Linked DNA regions of Homo sapiens: region 2 is linked to region 1. Evidence: fine-mapped expression QTL. Tissue or cell type: sun-exposed skin. Region 1 holds a variant in brackets; the other region holds the start of a gene. All regions are shown on one strand. Distances are from middle to middle.

Region 1 (8,107 bases):
ACTCAGCAAGTTAAAAAAAAAAAAAAAAAGCAAAGTCCACTCTCCAATAATGCATGCTTGTGGGAAGAGCACTAAGAAGGCATGCTGGGTTTAAGAGGCAGGGCACAGCTCAGAAAGCTTGCACATCTGTAAACCTCATGTGTGGGAGGGAACTGAGACAGCTCACACCCCAATGTGTGAGGCATGTGAGACAAACAGGTAAGGAGTCACCTCCTCTCTCCCTCACAGACAGAGGATGTACACAGACGTAGGTCTAAGGAGGCGTGGGGTGATCAGGAGCCTCATCATCTTGTACTCCTGTGTGCATCATCTGTGTCGGGGGTGGGGAGGGTGTCCCATAATAATGCTCACTCTTGCCAACAAGGCCTGTAAGAAGGGCACTAAACAATCTCGACTCTGGATGCTGGGTGAAAAAAAGCAAGGGGGCACATAGCCTATGGCGGGGGGGTGGCACTAGAAAATTCACTCTCCTGTAAGTTGTGTATATAAGAGTGGAATTAAAAAACACACACACTACCATTCAAGGCAAATGGGAGGGTGAACACATCAGATGTCTCAGACTGTGTGTGTGTGTGTAGAAGACTCAAGCCAGCAAACCCTTTGCAGTGTCATGCATGGGTGAAGGAGAGAAATAACAAGAAGGCAAGATGGCTTGCTCTCCCACAGACTCCACAAATAGGAATGGGATCAGGAAAGCTCTCTCTCCTACAGTCAAGACATATAGACGAGTGGTGGAGTCAGCAGGTTCTTCTTTCTGGCACTCTGAGTGTGAGAGGGAAGGAGGGAGGGAGGGAAGTAGAGAAGGCACATTAAGGTTCATTTGCCTGCAAACTTAAAATGTGGGAGGGGGATTGTGAAAATCCACACTCTGACACTTTGGGCCCGAAACGTACCAAGCAGGTCAGAAAGCAGGCGTGCTGCAGGCCTGAGGTAGAAGGCTTGTTTATCTGCACATTTTGTGTGGATCTGCTCAAAAGGAGGCTCACTTTGCAGCACTACGTCTATGTGGGTGCCCACAAAATGGCAGGAGCAGAGGGGGTGGTGAGAGAGTAAGTGAGAAGGGTCCAGTGACCGTACCCCATTAAGTATATATTCCTGTGCATGTATGAGCAGGAATATGCAAACAGGAAATGGGGCTCAGGCTGCCATACACCTTCTACACCTGTGTCGTTTGAGCAGTACAGTATAGTCTCAGCTTTGGAATGCCTGGTTCTGCCATTAACAGCTGTGCCTAATCTCCCTATGCCTGCATTTCATCATCTGTAAAATGGGGAGGGCGGGAGTCCCTGATTCTTAGGGTTGTTGCAAGGATTAACCAGGACACTATGACCAGTGCTGAGCTCAGTGTCTGGACACTGCCAGTGCCAAATGTTAACTATCTTTGTTAGCATCAGCAACAGGAAAATGGGCCTCTCTAGGGAAATATCACTCAAAGATCCTCATGAATGCCCCTGACCCCAACTGTTTAGCTTCTCCCTTGTCTGAGGCCAGAAAGGAACTGCTAAAGAGTAGTGAGTTCCAGACTTTATGTTCAACAACTTGGGGCTAAGGGTAAAAGAAAGAGAGAACTAGGGAGATAGACACAGATGGGATCTTCAACAAAAAAATGTTTATTATTGGCCAGGCATGGTGGCTCATGCCTGTAATCCCAGCACTTTGGGAGGCTGAGGCAAGATGATCACTTGAGCCAGGAGTTTGAGCCCAGTCTGGGTAACATAGTGAGACCCCATCTCTACAAAAAAAAAAAAGGCCGGGCATAGTAGCACACATCTGTAGTGTCAGCTACTCAGGAGGCTGAGGTAGGAGGATTGCCTGGGCCCAGGAGATCAAGACTGCAGTGAGCTATGACTGCACCACTGCACTCCAGCCTGGGCAATGGAGTGAGACCCTGTCTCAAAAAACAAGAGTTTATTATTATTTGGAAGTAAAGAAGAAGGTAACAAAATGGATTGAAAACTAGGAAGACTGAATGTATGAGGTCAGGAGGTGAGGAGGTATTGAGGTAAGGTGTGAAGGGTGGGAACTTACAACAGGGACAAGTGGGGGGCAAGATAATAAAGGTATGACTTTGACATCTCTGGTGGAAACACTGCTGATCAGCAGAATGAGCTAGATAAATAACTCCTGAAAAATCCTGAAATAATGGTGTATTCAATGACTTCTGGAGTAAGAAAAACCCTAAAAGAGAGACACACATTTGGGGCTTGATAGGAATAATGTGATTGCTGTCCTCAAGGAGCTTCAAGGGTCTACATCAAGTAAGAGTCCTATGAAAAGTTCTCTGAGATACATCTTAACTCTGACACTGTATGATACAATGAGGACAGAATTAAGCCAGATAAAATGAAAATGCTGAACTACTGATACAAGGCAGTGATGCAAAATGCAAGAATTTAGAGAGGGGGAGGCACTGCTATAGATAAGATGAGTTGGAGTGAAGAGTGACCAAAGGGGATGGAAAAGACAAACACAGATCAGGAGGAGGAGGAGGTAGAGAAAGGTATTTCAGAAGCTAAGGAGAATATATAAAGTTACTACCTAAGGAGGCCACAAAGAAACCAGTTTGGCTGGAGTGGAGAGTTCTGACAGAGAGAAGAGGGTGAATAAGGTCAAGGCCATGCTGTGGTCCTTAAATGCTGCAATAATAATAATGAGGTGGACTATCAGTGTGGTGAGCAACCTCTTAGGAGAGGGAATTTTAGGTGGCCCACCAATGTTGTTCCTCTTACTTAATGTGTCCATTTGACTGTAAAGAGGAATACATTAAAACTAACCCTGACTCATGTTTGCATGGAGTTTATTGCTTGCAGTGAGGCTACATGTTTTAAAATACATGTTTTAATATTTAAAATGAGCTGATTTAAAAGAAGATAACAAGTCCAGATGGACATGAAGACTGTGAAGACAGTAACGCATATCATGGGGTTCGATGCTGCAAAACAGAGCTACAGGCAATGGGCAGTTACCAAAGTTTTATAAGTTGGAGAGTAAAATGCTTCTTCAGGAAGTTTAGTCTAGCAGCAAGTGGAAATATGGATTTGCACCAGGGAAATCAATTTAAAAGCTCAGCTCTCACAACTGACAGATGAGAGAGTTCAGGAGGGCCTGAACTAGGCTGAGTAGAGGTGAGAACAGAAAGGAAGTAATGGGGTGTGGAGTGAGGAGTGATTCAATAGATTTCAAGAGCAGAAACTGGTAATTCATCCTATGTGGTGTTTTATGAAGATGAATCTTACACAGTCTTCGGCACAAGGGTTGAATGAGTATGACAGCTGAGCTGATAGATGAGATAAGCACAAGGGACACTTTGAACAATCTACAGAACTTGGGTAATCAAGCTTGGGCATGATTATGTCAGAAAATGCCAAGGATTCCAGCACTAACACAGAGATAGATAATGGCTTAGGCCAAGACTTAGGTATCTGGAGTCTTAGCACCCTTCACTGAAATGGCCACACTGTATTGCAAAGCACTAAACAACAGAATGCCATATGCCACGTGGATAACAAGGCATTTATTTTGCTACTCTTCATCCTGGGCAAGCTACCTATCCTGTGCTGGTGCTCCTAATATGAAACTCTCATATTTCCCAACCCCTCCAGCTCTAAAGCCAGTACATAACACATGATAAAACTGGCAGCTGAATGAATTTTACTTTATTGCTCAAGGGAAATTTAAACAAAAATGACAACTTGGAAGGACTTTACTCATGAGCTCAAGTCCCCTGTAAAAATAGACACAGTTACACTATTCATTTGCTACATAAACTTATTACGTCTTACCATTTGGTAGATTGGCAGAATGAATAGGTTCATTATCTCTTCATTGATGCTTTTCTTAGGAGCTGTCAAGCCTTTACACTCTACATTTCCTCCAAGAACCCACTCTAAGAATGTCTCTGCTATGACTCGCTCACATAGCACTTAGACACATCCTGCCTTGCATTCCAGTTACTTGCACTGTGCTTTATCTCTCCCAGAGGGAAGGGACTGACTTTACCCTTGCTCGGAAGCCTCAGCTACAAGGTAGAAACTCCGTAACTATTTTCGAAAGAATTCTGTTTGCTTGGTTTAGTACAGCTACTCCCATTCTGTTTGAAGTATTGCCATTTCACGGGCCCAAAAATGTCTTATCAGCAGCTATCCAAATTACTTCCCCTTCGCCATTATTGTGCAAGAATATATGGATAAAGTGACTTACTAATTCAGGAAGATTTCAGGGCGTGTCGGGTTTAGGGACACACACTCCATCCTTCAGTCACTGTTCTGCCCAACCACCCACCTAAGGTGTGGTGACTACTAGAA[T/A]GACAAATGCCGCCTACACCTTACTCTGTAATTCTAAAATGTAAGCTTAGGAATACGTCTTGATCTGAATTTAGGTCCAGGAGGCAAGATATATTGAGTTGAAGGTTAATCTTTATTTTCTCAATGGGTTAGAGAAGAAAAAAACAAATTAGACAATCTGGGGAACCGGATTATAGTTCCAACCCCATTTCACTGACTTGAGTTGAGCCTCAAGAGCGAGAGGCTAATGTTTCTGCATCTTAGTTGCATCATACCAAAGTTGATATGAATATTTGTTTGGAGGGGTAAAAAGCCTGCTGAAACTTGGTGGAAGAATTCACCCAATCGTGTTTAACTGCTGTGACCTGCTGTATATCTGTTAAGAGAATATGCATAAACTTCTATCTTATGCTGTCCCTAGGGTTTATGCAGCAGAAGAGTCATGGATAAGATGCTTCCAGGAATATCTATCCTCTTGGAATAGAGCACAAAACTGAATAGGAGTGTATCAAATTCTGTACTATTGCAGGTTGTGTTATAATGAGATTCTAACTTTGCATGGCAAATGGGCTTAATATATACTAGACTTTAATACAGCTAAAAGGATTTTTAACTTCCTACTCTCCTCAATTTCTTCTTTTGGCATCTGACATAAGATGACTCCCTAATTCCTGAAATGCCCTTTTTAGCTTATATTATATGGTACAGTATTCTGGTTCTCCTACTACCTCTCTGATCCTTCCTTCAATATTTGTTGCCACTTCTTCCTTCCTCAAGGTTCCTATTGTGGCTAGCCCCCCACCACCACTCCACCTTGCCCCACCATACATCTGTCTAATCACCTTTCTCTGAATTCTATTATGGGTTACAGACATCATTATTCTCAAATAACTTCCAAATTCTAAAAATCTATTCCTGCTCTCCCATTCAAGCCACAGCATATTTTAAATTACCACCAAATAAAAAGTTTGACACTTGAAAAACATACCTAAACACATTACTGCTCCCCAAAGCAGATTTCTTTCTCCCCAAATTCTCTGCTATCACAATTGCTATTTTGATGTCACCTACTTAGAATGTCGATTCTCTTTTGCTCCCTCCTCTTTTAACCCCGGTATTTAATTTGGTACCAAGTCCAAACTTTCTTGTTTGCAGTATTTTGTATTTATTCCTTTACTTTCTATCCCTATTTTTCTCACTGATGTCCTGGCCTTTTCCTTAGGTTATTACTCTCCAAGGCCATTCCCTGTGGTTGGCCACATTCCATCTCTAACTCCCCTGCCCTGCTTCCCAGCTGCCCCACAGATCTCTTCTCAAGTCAAGCCAATTTCCTCATGGTCAGCCCCCACACCCACCTCTAACCAGACTTGTGTTACTGGGCCAGACTGGCCCAAATATTAACTGTCTTTAAAGGCTAGCTCAAGTCTCACTTCTTTCATGATATTTTCCCTTTCCTAAACTCCCTTAGGACAATGCCACTCACTACTTTATTGTGTTCTCATTGAATAATAAGCACAACAGAACCAGGATTCAGGCAAATTTACTCAGACCCTCCTTCACAATGCTAGATACACAATAGTTGCTCAAGAAATGCTTTTGGATTATATGATGATTACCATTCAAACTATATTATTTACTGTAAAACCTCTGCTCTTATTTCTCTCCCTAGTGATTACACATTGAATCTGGAAGAGCCAACGAAAGGACACTCTGGACCCCCTCCCTACTCCTGTCCTGGCTTTGGAATTTAGCACATGAAAAACACATATCACAGGATACTAAAAGTCCACAATTTTAGAACTTTAGTAACAAAAGAGCACAAAATCCAGCTAGATACTTCCCTTATATGTGGAAAAACTGCTTTTTCCCCCTTGAATTCAGGTTTAAACAAAGCCCTTAAATTAAAAAGCAAGGACAACCGGAAACCCTTCCTCTCCAGGTCTCTTAGGAGATGCTGCTCTGAGGTTGACCTTGGTGGTGGAGAAGGTGGGTGTGGGGAGGAAACCTTAAATGCCTAGAATCCACAGCTCAAGCCAAGGAAGGAAGAGACCCAAATCCACTGGGGCCAGCACATCTCCCTCTAATGCCAGAAGTTCACAGGAGTCTCACTTCCTAACTTGTCCTGCTGGATTCTTAAATCTGCTTAAACTATTGTATTGCTTAACCCATCACCCAGCCACCAAATAACAAGTTCTCCCTAGTTAGCTCAAGGAAATGACAGCACACCAGTTACACACCCTACTGTACTCTGCCTAACAGTAACTGCAACAGTTAGATTTTTATGGGTCAGCAGAACTTTATAAACTACTTTATAAACCAAGGAAAAATTATAGCTCTACATATATGCAAACCTTTATAATGGCAGTATATCCCTTAATTAATCATATGGGTAAGTAAATTACTTGCATTAAAAGCATCCTAAAAAAGTTCTTGGCTTGCCTCAAGGTTAATGGAACACTGAGTTAAGAAATTATTGCTAGGGGGAAAAAATAAAGAAAACAACATGCCGAACACTCAGCATATTGTCCTAGCGAAGTGTTAGTTAAGCTGCAATAGACTTTAGCAGTGTAAGCATTTTTCTCCTCAACACAAACTGTAAGTACAATATTTAAGTATTTCTTCTCTTCTTCCTTTTTATTCCTAAACTTTGGTTTGGAGATTCTGCCAGTGATGCACCTGGACAGTCACTGGGAATTTTAACAGGGGTAATGATTAAAATGTCAGCCCTACAAACCACATAGGGCTTTTAAGGAGAAAACAGGCAGATTTTCTAGCCATGGGTACTTTATGAGAGTTGTGTATAATCCTAGGGTAGGACATGAAACTGCATGTCAGAATTCATCCCTTGAAAGCTGAAAGAAAGCAGTAATGGTGGGAAAATGGGGAGCTGAGAACATTTTTGTTATTTTTCCAAGCTGAAATTTGGAAGGCAAAAAAAAAAAAAAAAGAAAAAAAGAGAGGGAGAGACCCCAAGAGAGAGACCCCGGGACCGTTTTGCAGATTCTATGGCACAACTCAAGAAGATGTAGCCAGCCAGCTCATAAATTTACCACTAACCACAACTAAATATAATTCAAAACACCTGGAAAGCTTTTTAAAAAAATAAATGAACTGAAAGACCCTATAGATTTGGGCTGTTGTCAGAATTTGTGCTGCCAGACAGATGGCGTCAATGCTCTCAGGACAATGAGACAAGTCAAAGGCTTAATTCATTCAACTGAGCAGCACCTCTGCACATGGATTACTATTTACACTTCATAACATACACACCCACTAACGCCATATGTTTAAGAAGACATCGCTGGGGCTGTGAAAGAAAGGAAAGAAAGTTCCCAGTGAAATTCTCACCACCCTTGGATACACGGGTGTCTTCACTTTCTGGTAAATCATGGAGCTGTAACTGGATTTGCACACTGTTTTGTAGGTGTGTTATATGTTAACAGGAAAGTTTTAAAACCCCTTGACATCCTTTGGCTAAACTTGTAGCATTATTAAACACCTTGCCAGAAAAACTCTTCTAGACATTGGCTTAGGCAAAGAGTTCATGACCAAGAACCCAAAAGCAAATGCAAGAAGAACAAAGATAAATAGATGGGACTTAATTAAACTAAAAAGCTTCTGCACAGCAAAAGAAATAATCAGCAGAGTAAACAGACAACCCACAGAATGGGAGAAAATTTTCACTAACTATGCATCTGACAAAGAACTAATATACAAAATCTGCACAGAACTCGAACAAATCAAGAAAAAATAATAATCCCCTCAAAAAGTGGGCTAAGGACATGAATAGACAATTCTCAAAAGAAGATATACAAATGGCCAAC
Region 2 (8,107 bases), 72 kb after region 1:
GCAATGGGATGAGTTATATTACTATCTCCATTTTGTAAAGGAGAAAACTTCCACACAGAGAGATTAAGTTACTTGCCCAAGGCCTCGTAGCTACCAAGTGACAGAACCAATGGAGTAGAACTCAGACCCACACATTTAACTATCATACCACACTGCTTCCAAACTATCATCGTACTTTGCTGGTTACTTCAGAGGTTAGCCAAAACAAAGGATAAGCTGCAGTTATCCAAAGAGCTTACTTATATAGAATACTCCCCTCTTCACTAATGCTGGAAAAATGAGGTTTCACTTCAATGTAATTTTAAGCACATCTGATTTCAGGGCCTGGGCTTGCAAAATACATTATTTACTATGAAAATATGACATTTTGATTAAGAGTTGTTAAACATTAAAATGTTTTTATTGTAAAATAAATCATTAACTAGTAATGACATTTCCATTAACTACAGAGAAAAAAATACAAGCTCTTTATGCATCATTAGGAACAAAACTTTAGATCCCCATCTGTGCCAATATCAGTTCTGTACTTTCAAAACTGTCTTTGAAACATTGACCTGACAGTACATAGGTGTCTCAACCCAAACAGGTCATCCAAATCCAGTGCACCACCCCCATGCCCATCAGCTGCCTCCCATGCTCCCCATCTCAGAGAATGGCACCAGTGGCCCCCAGGCACCCAAGCTGGTAGTTAATCCAGGCCCATTTCTTGCCACATCCAGTCACAGAACATTCTAGAATCCCATTCTAACCTTACTGCCCCTGCTTCTGCTCAGACCCTTACCATCTCTCCCCTAAACTATTCCAGAAACCTCCTGACTGACTCCCAGTTTTCATCATTTCCAGCTCAGCACTGCTGCCAAAGTAATCTTTCTAAAACAAAATCTGATTATGTTACTTCCCTGTTTAGAATCTTTGTCTTCAGGATAAAGTGTAAAATCCTTCCTAGAACATACAAGGCTCTTTATTATCTGGCCTCCAACTACCTTCCCTGCTTCATCTGAGGTCGCGCCCCTACACATCTCACATGAGGCAAACAGAGCAACTTGGAACTTCCCAAACAGTGCTGCTCTGTCTGCCCAGAATGCAATTCTCTCATTTGCTCCTACTCATTTTTTTAGACCAGCTCAAAACTCAGACTTCATCAAGCTTTTCTCGGGGCTTCCCTTGCTTTTTGTACCTCTCTATTCTAACACTTATTCAACATGGCAAAATTATTTGTTTGTATGTCTGTCTTTAGATGACAAGGAATCTTCTAGCATCCTGCAACTTATTCATCTCTGTATTTCGTTTGTTGAATGAAATAATGTCTCAGGATTTAAGCAAGAATATCCAAACTGCTCTTGATAAATGCCCATTGTGTGAGTCAAAGGAAGCATACAGGCCAAATCCCGTTTCCATAAATGTCTTCTCATTGATAATCTTTATACATGGAAACTACTTGTTACATTTGTGTGCCTACATAAAGTCACAACCAACACAATGAAACATTTTTAAAAGATACATTAGACCACCAACTAACCAACCTGCTGAATATTTCTAGATATTCAAGCTATTTCATTCCACTCCATTTAAGTGGTCTTTAACTTTTTGTGGGTCACAGGCCAATTTTGGTAGTGTTTGTCTATCATTTCTTAAACCCACACTCACTTTTGATAACAATAAAAATCCCACATACCCGTGGAGACTCCTAAACCCTCCAAAGGGCACAAACCGCAACTCCGCTCAAAATAAAACATAACTTTGTATGTGGTAGGAATTCACAAGTTCATGAGAGATGTAATACATCAGCTAAGATACTACTGAGCTTTGCTCTCAGGTAGTTCATATTATTAAAACAGGCGTTTTCCTTCTCAATGTTTATATTGTATCAAATATAAACACTGTAACATTAAATATGCTCTTTCAAACTGCATACATCACAAAGTTTTTATTGGGAAGATGAAGCTGGAGAGGCAGTGACATCTGTCTCCCCAACCTTATGGTGGGGAATCTTATGATAGAAATTTGCCAGAAACAAATGAAAAACACAAATGGGAAAAAATATCCTGTCTCCTGGCATATAACCCCCAATGATCACTTATTTAAATGAAGGGAGTTCTTTTAAATGCTGCTGGCATGGCATTTTCCTACTTCTCCTACAACCCCACTTTTAAATAATTTAAACTTATAGCTAGCAGCAGCTTCTTTTTAAACTAATGTGTTTTGTCCCTGCAAAGACAAAGGGTTAAATTAAAGAACAGCTGGCTGCCTGCCATTGGCTGGGTGGGGAACGGTTGGGTGAGGGTAGAGAATAGAGTAGGAGGAAAAACCAGTTAGAAGAATAAGTGCTAATTTCTTACCCTGCCACATGGCCATCTTGATCCTATCTTCACCCACGCTGGGGTCACAGGCTGAGTTTCCCAGAGCCTCTCAGTTTTGTAGGGAGACTTGATAGAAAGGCAGCTATGTGGCCCTGTTTTCTCCAAGGGGCTAAAGCCCCAAACCTGAAAATGTAAACAGAAAAATGAATACCTAAAAGAAACTATACACTTCAAATGCTTGAAAATTATCTCCTGCTCCTCTCTGAACCTCTCTTTCAAAGATATGCAGGCATGGGTAGTGTCAAGTTTCCCTCTAAGCAGCAAGGTATCTCTGAAGAGAGAGAGATCTGGAGTGAGTTAATGTTGCCACTCAGTGCTATACATTTCTGCATGAATCATTAGAGCTTCAGTAAATGAGGTCTGAGTCTCAGTTGATGAGTTGCTGGATGAAATCACCGTTAAGCACCTTTCCTACCTTGAAGTTTCATGCTTTGGAGACTGAAGAGCAACATTAATATCCAGTGCCCTAACCAACCCCCAAAATACCCAACTTTACATTTAAAAATCAGTAGAAGGAGAGGAAAGTTTATGAATAAAGTTTGGAAACAGATCTTGTATAGGGGAAAAAAAAGGAAGCGGAATAAAAAGTGAAGAGTGATGATACCCTTTGAGTAGTAGTTCTCTCTCCTTGTGTCATTATACTTTCCCACCCTTTGCAAATTTCCTATAGTGAGCGTATATTGCTTTTATAATCAGGGGGAAAATGAACCAAAGAAGAAGAAAAATGTAAAAATGGAATACCAGTTTAAAGAAAACCAAATTAATTCAGCTAATTCCTGTTGTTAAAACTTCAAATCCAGTCCTAGGACAATATTTGCAAAGATATTAAAGGAGTTAGGGGCCGGGTGCGGTGTAATCCCAGCACTTTGGGAGGCCGAAGCAGGCGGATCACCTGAGGTCAGTTCGAGACCAGCCTGGCCAACATGGTGAAACCCCGTCTCTACTAAAAATACAAAAATTAGCCAGGTATGGCGGTGCACTATAATTACAAGTGACGCCTGTAATCCCAGCTACTCGGAAGGCTGAGGCAGGAGAATCGCTTGAACCCGGGAGGGAGGCGGAGGTTGCAGTGAGCCAAGATTGTGCCACTGCACTCCAGCCTGGGCGACAGAACGAGAGCCGGCTCAAACCAAAAAAAAAAAAAAAAATAGGAGCTAGGAATGGGAGAAAAAATGAGAGGTCTGACGACTTAGTTTGACTTAGAGGCTTAACACTCTGCTTGCCCATTTAAACAAGATCTCAGTTAATAAACTGGTCTTCCCTACTTAGCATACAAGCCAATCTGTTTTTTCTAAAAGTCTTCACCTTTTTGACCTGGTGAACATCAAAGTAGATTGTTATTTCCATATCTTTTATACAACCAACACCTCCACCTCCTAAGTGAAAGTGCTAAAGCACAAACACTGAAGGCTAATACTAGCTTGAGAATCGTGTTGGCCTTCTTTAATGACAAAAGGGTTAATGTGTACACCAGTCCCAAAACACCAACAGAGAAAAGACAGTGCTTTGGACAAGGAAAAGTTCGCGAAGTCCAAGAAAACTAGGAACTCACAAACTCCTAGGGTGAATTCAGCAGGAAAAAGCGCTCCGATGACTTCTCTGAGACCTGGGACAGTCTGTTTTGATTTGCCTTTTTTCTTCTCCTATTTCGCGTGCAGTTAAGAAGTAATGATCATCGTCCCGTGGGACTAGGCGAAATTTAACATCCCTGAAGTTAAACCCGAGCAGTTGCTAATAAATGTATGAAGTTTATGTAAAGTTGATTCGTGCTGGTTTTTTATGCTCCAAACTTCTAGATTTCCCTCACTTACTCGGGGCAGCTTCCACTGACGTTATCGCACGGGCACAGGTACAACTTCACTGGGAACTCCAGGCAACTGATTTGCTCTGAAATGTTAATCAAAGGAAACGTGCGTCAATGTAAAGGCAAAGCTTTTCCCGTGTGGATCAAGGCGCTCAAGAGCAAGGCTCGAAAGTCTGGAGAGAACCAGCTACGCGCGTTAAGTGGCAAAAGGAAAACAGCGCAGCAACTACTTTTCCGAGAGTTTCTCCACTTTGCTAAGACCCATACAAAACCAGCGGCAAGTCCAGAGCCGGAGGGAGAAGAGCCGGGCCTCGGCTGAGCTTTGCCAGCCTAAGTCACCCTACCCCAGTCCGGGAAAGGGGACGCAGGCGGCTAAACACTCCGATTCAAAAGCGGGGCGGGCTTGGCGCCGCTCCGCAAGGAAACTTCGCTCGGGCAACCCAGGGACCATAACTCGGAGAACAGGGCTGGGCTCCCGGGAAGACGCCGCTCAGCACTGGCTGGAACTAGCCTGTCTACCTCCTCTAAGCGCCGGGCTGCCAACGCCGGGCGCGGGGAAGCCCCATCTCCGGGGGTCCAAGCCAGCGGGATTGCGCTTCCCCTGTGTCGCTGCGCTTAGGGGGTGCTCCGGGGGTGGGCCGGGGGCCAGCGGCCCGCCAAGGACCTGTTGGGGAAGGGACAGCCCGTTTGCCTTTACCTGTCGCCGAGGTCCGGAGCGGCGGAGCCCGTGTCCGCCGCCGGTGGGCAGCGCGCTCGGTCGGCTCTGGCGTCCAGGACACCAAGTTGAGTGAGCGCCCCACGTAGCCGGCAGAGCTTCATTCACACAGCCCAGCCGGGGAGGAGGGGGAGCGAAGCGGGCGCGCGGCTCATGTGACAGGGCGCCTCGCGAGTATCGGCTCAGCCCAGCCAGCGTCTGCGCGTGCGCGCCACGCCGAGCTCACACCCGGCACCTCTACCCAGCCGAGATGAGGGGAGGCCCGCCGGGGAGGAGCTGCCAGGAGGAGTTTCAACTTGCGCAGCCGCAGTACGTCGGCCCCGCTCGCTGCCATATTTAATGAGGACTGGGCGGGCGGGTCCTATCCCAGTGCTGGGCGTGTCAGTTGCCTTTGAAAACGCAATGCCCCATTGTGTTTCACTATTTCCAGCTTGCAGTGCCTTTTTTTGCTGGGGAGAAGGTTTGTCCTTAGAATGAAACTGTCTATCCTGAGCTTTCGGCCCACAGAGTAATTAGTAGTAGAAATCTAATACTAATAACATTAGATCACATAATTTGAGCTGCTTCTTATGTGCCAGGCACTCTCCTAACCCCTTTACTTTTTTCGTCTCATTTGGTGTTCACAATAACCCCGAGGGTTATTTCTCCATTTTTACTCATAAAAATACACAGGCACAGAAAGGTTAAGTAACTTGTCTAAACTCATATAATAGTAGGAATAGGAATAGTGATCAAACGTAGTGATACTTTTAACAGCCAACTTGATGTTTCCAGCAACGCTGCAAAAACTATACTGCAGTTGTTAGTACTGTATTATCTCCATATTAATCATTACAAAACAGAGGCTCAGAAAAGCTGAAGTCACAGGACTAGTACGTGGTAGAACTGGGAATCCAACCTAGGTCTAACTTACTCCAAAGCCCTTACCCTAGGTTTGAAAGAAACAGCACACCGTTTTGCAGAAGAGAAAACTTAGGCCAAATGGGGTGCACTGACTCACTTAAGATGATCCAGCTAATTAGTTCTTGGCAGACCTGAGACTGGAATCCATATAATCCAAGTAATCTAACTAGAACCAGGGTACTCTACTGCAGTGAACAATTTGGAATGCCTACTTTGGACAAGCTAAGTGGTCAGGGATTTAAAAACCCCTATCCTAGCCCAATCAGCATAAGGCTACCGGGGACAAATTTGTAATCCGACATAGTCAGGCTTTGACCCATTGCAATATGAGAGACTGCACACGGTAGGCATTTCATCAAACAGAAAAACATGGAGTCATTATAGGATTGGAGAGAAGAGTGGAGTTTAGGTGAATTTTAAACAAAGCAGTGTTTTTGGTAAGCTCAAAGCAAAGCAGTACTGTCATTTGGGGTCACCATCAGGTCTGAACTGCAAAGTGAACCCAGAGTTGTGTTTCCTTGGGAACCACAAAATAAAGATAGATGTGGAATGTTGTGTCCAGATACCCCTTATCTGAAGCTCTGCACCTGGGTTGGAAATTGAGGCTGCTTCTCTGTGTCAAAGAAACTTATGTCCTCCAGATGCATGTGGGATGTTTCATTCTTACTGATACGATTTCAAGCAGAAAAGTTTCTGATAATCTACGATTTTAGAGAACAAAGTCTCTCAGTGAATAAAAAAGTGGTGGTCACTGAAATAAAAACATCGTTACCACTTTACAGCTGCAATATGTCCGCCAAAGAAATATTGTTCTCTGTTAAATTTGCATCTGGTTTTATCTGTGTGTTATTCCGGCCTGATGAATGGCCGGATTTTTATTTTTTCAGTCCAAAATTTTTTTGCTTTCTGAGCTGGTAACATTCAGTCCCTTCCTTCAGGCACTCATGGTGTATGGGATAGCCACAAATAACTAGAAAATATCAGTACAGGCCTCTAATAAAGGTAAATCCAAGTGGAGGTAACACCGTTGGCAAAGGTGAGCAGGCAGGAAGTTATATGTGAGGACCCGTGAGTAGTCCTATGTGGTTGAAGTTTAGGGTAAGGAAGTACAGGGGAATTGTGGAAGATAATACCCAGAAGGTAAATTGGGGCCCAATTTTGGAGCATCCTGAATATTGGACTAAGATTTATACCTAATTCAAAAAGTGACTGAGAAAGAATTGAGGTTTCTGAGCAAGGCAATCCTCTTTTGGAATTCATCTTTTAAAAGGTGAATCTAGAGTAATTGTTCAAGGAAAGGTTTGATTGTTTGCTTGATTTTTTTTTTTGTCATTGAAGTAGAAGAAACTGGAGCTTATATGTAGGTCGAGCAGAAAAACTACTGGTGAAATCAATAATAAAGAGGCAAGAGGCCGGGTGCAGTGGCTCACGCCTGTAATCCCAGCACTTTGGGAGGCCAAGGCAGGTGGATCACTTGAGGTCAGGAGTTCGAGACCAGCCTGGCCAACATGATGAAACCCCATCTCTACTAAAAATACATGGCTAGGCATGGTGGCTGGCGCCTGTAATCCCAGCTACTCAGGAGGCTGAGGCAGGAGAATAACTTGAACCCAGGAGGCAGAATTTGCAGTGAGCCGAGATCGCACCACGGCACTCCAGCCTGGGAAACAAGAGCGAAACTCTGTCTCACATACACACACAAAAGAGTCAAGAAAAGGAGGGGATAACTAATGGAGTAAAATAATTGAGAGGCGAGAAATGAGATTCAAAACACAAACTAACCTCGGACACCTCTTCCTCTGATACAGGAAAAAACGGTTTGAAGGATGGCAGTCTGGTTGGAAGGAGACATGTCACGAAACTGCCTCTGCAGAGCAAACATATTGGCTTTACTTAAAGTACATACAGGTTTATTTGGGAGAGCTGGGGAGCGAGTAGGAGGGGTTGGGAGGGAGCAAGGAATTGGGGGGAATTGGGAGTTATAAAAGGGCTGCAGTACACCCAGTTTACCACTTGGTGTCGCCACTGACCGATGACAGCTTGGAGGGCTCCAGTTGGGGGACGAAATCTCCCCCTCCCCCCAAAAAATGTGCATTTCAAAAAAAGAACATTTTATCTTTTGCGAATTGCAAAACAAAACAGAGTGAGCTCCAGAGCCAGACTGCCTGGGCTCAAAGCCAACCATACTCAGACGCTTACTAGCTGTGTCACCTTGTTCAAGTTATCTAACTTCACTGTTTCGGGTTTCTTACCTATAAAATGGGATAATAGGAGTAAATGTATTAACAGGTGTAGAACAGTTAGAACAGATTAAGCACTCAATAA

Evidence for each region. PIP is the estimated chance that this variant, and not a neighbour inherited with it, causes the effect.
Region 2: it holds the start of CLCN5, and the variant in region 1 is fine-mapped to the expression of CLCN5 in sun-exposed skin (GTEx, PIP 0.94).

What each region holds. Positions count from the first base shown.
Region 1 is chrX:49,991,332-49,999,438 of GRCh38, reverse strand. All of the region lies in intron 3 of CLCN5 (chloride voltage-gated channel 5), which reads right to left. Among named protein-coding and RNA genes, the nearest start is that of MIR532, 7.8 kb to the left of the region's middle. The variant T/A (reference allele first, on the strand shown) is at 4,305.
Region 2 is chrX:49,919,547-49,927,653 of GRCh38, reverse strand. It overlaps CLCN5 (chloride voltage-gated channel 5), which reads right to left and starts at 5,058. Exons shown (of 15, transcript NM_001127898.4): 1 at 4,862-5,058; 2 at 4,172-4,247; 3 at 2,340-2,483. The coding sequence starts at 2,355. RefSeq lists a silencer at 4,747-4,796.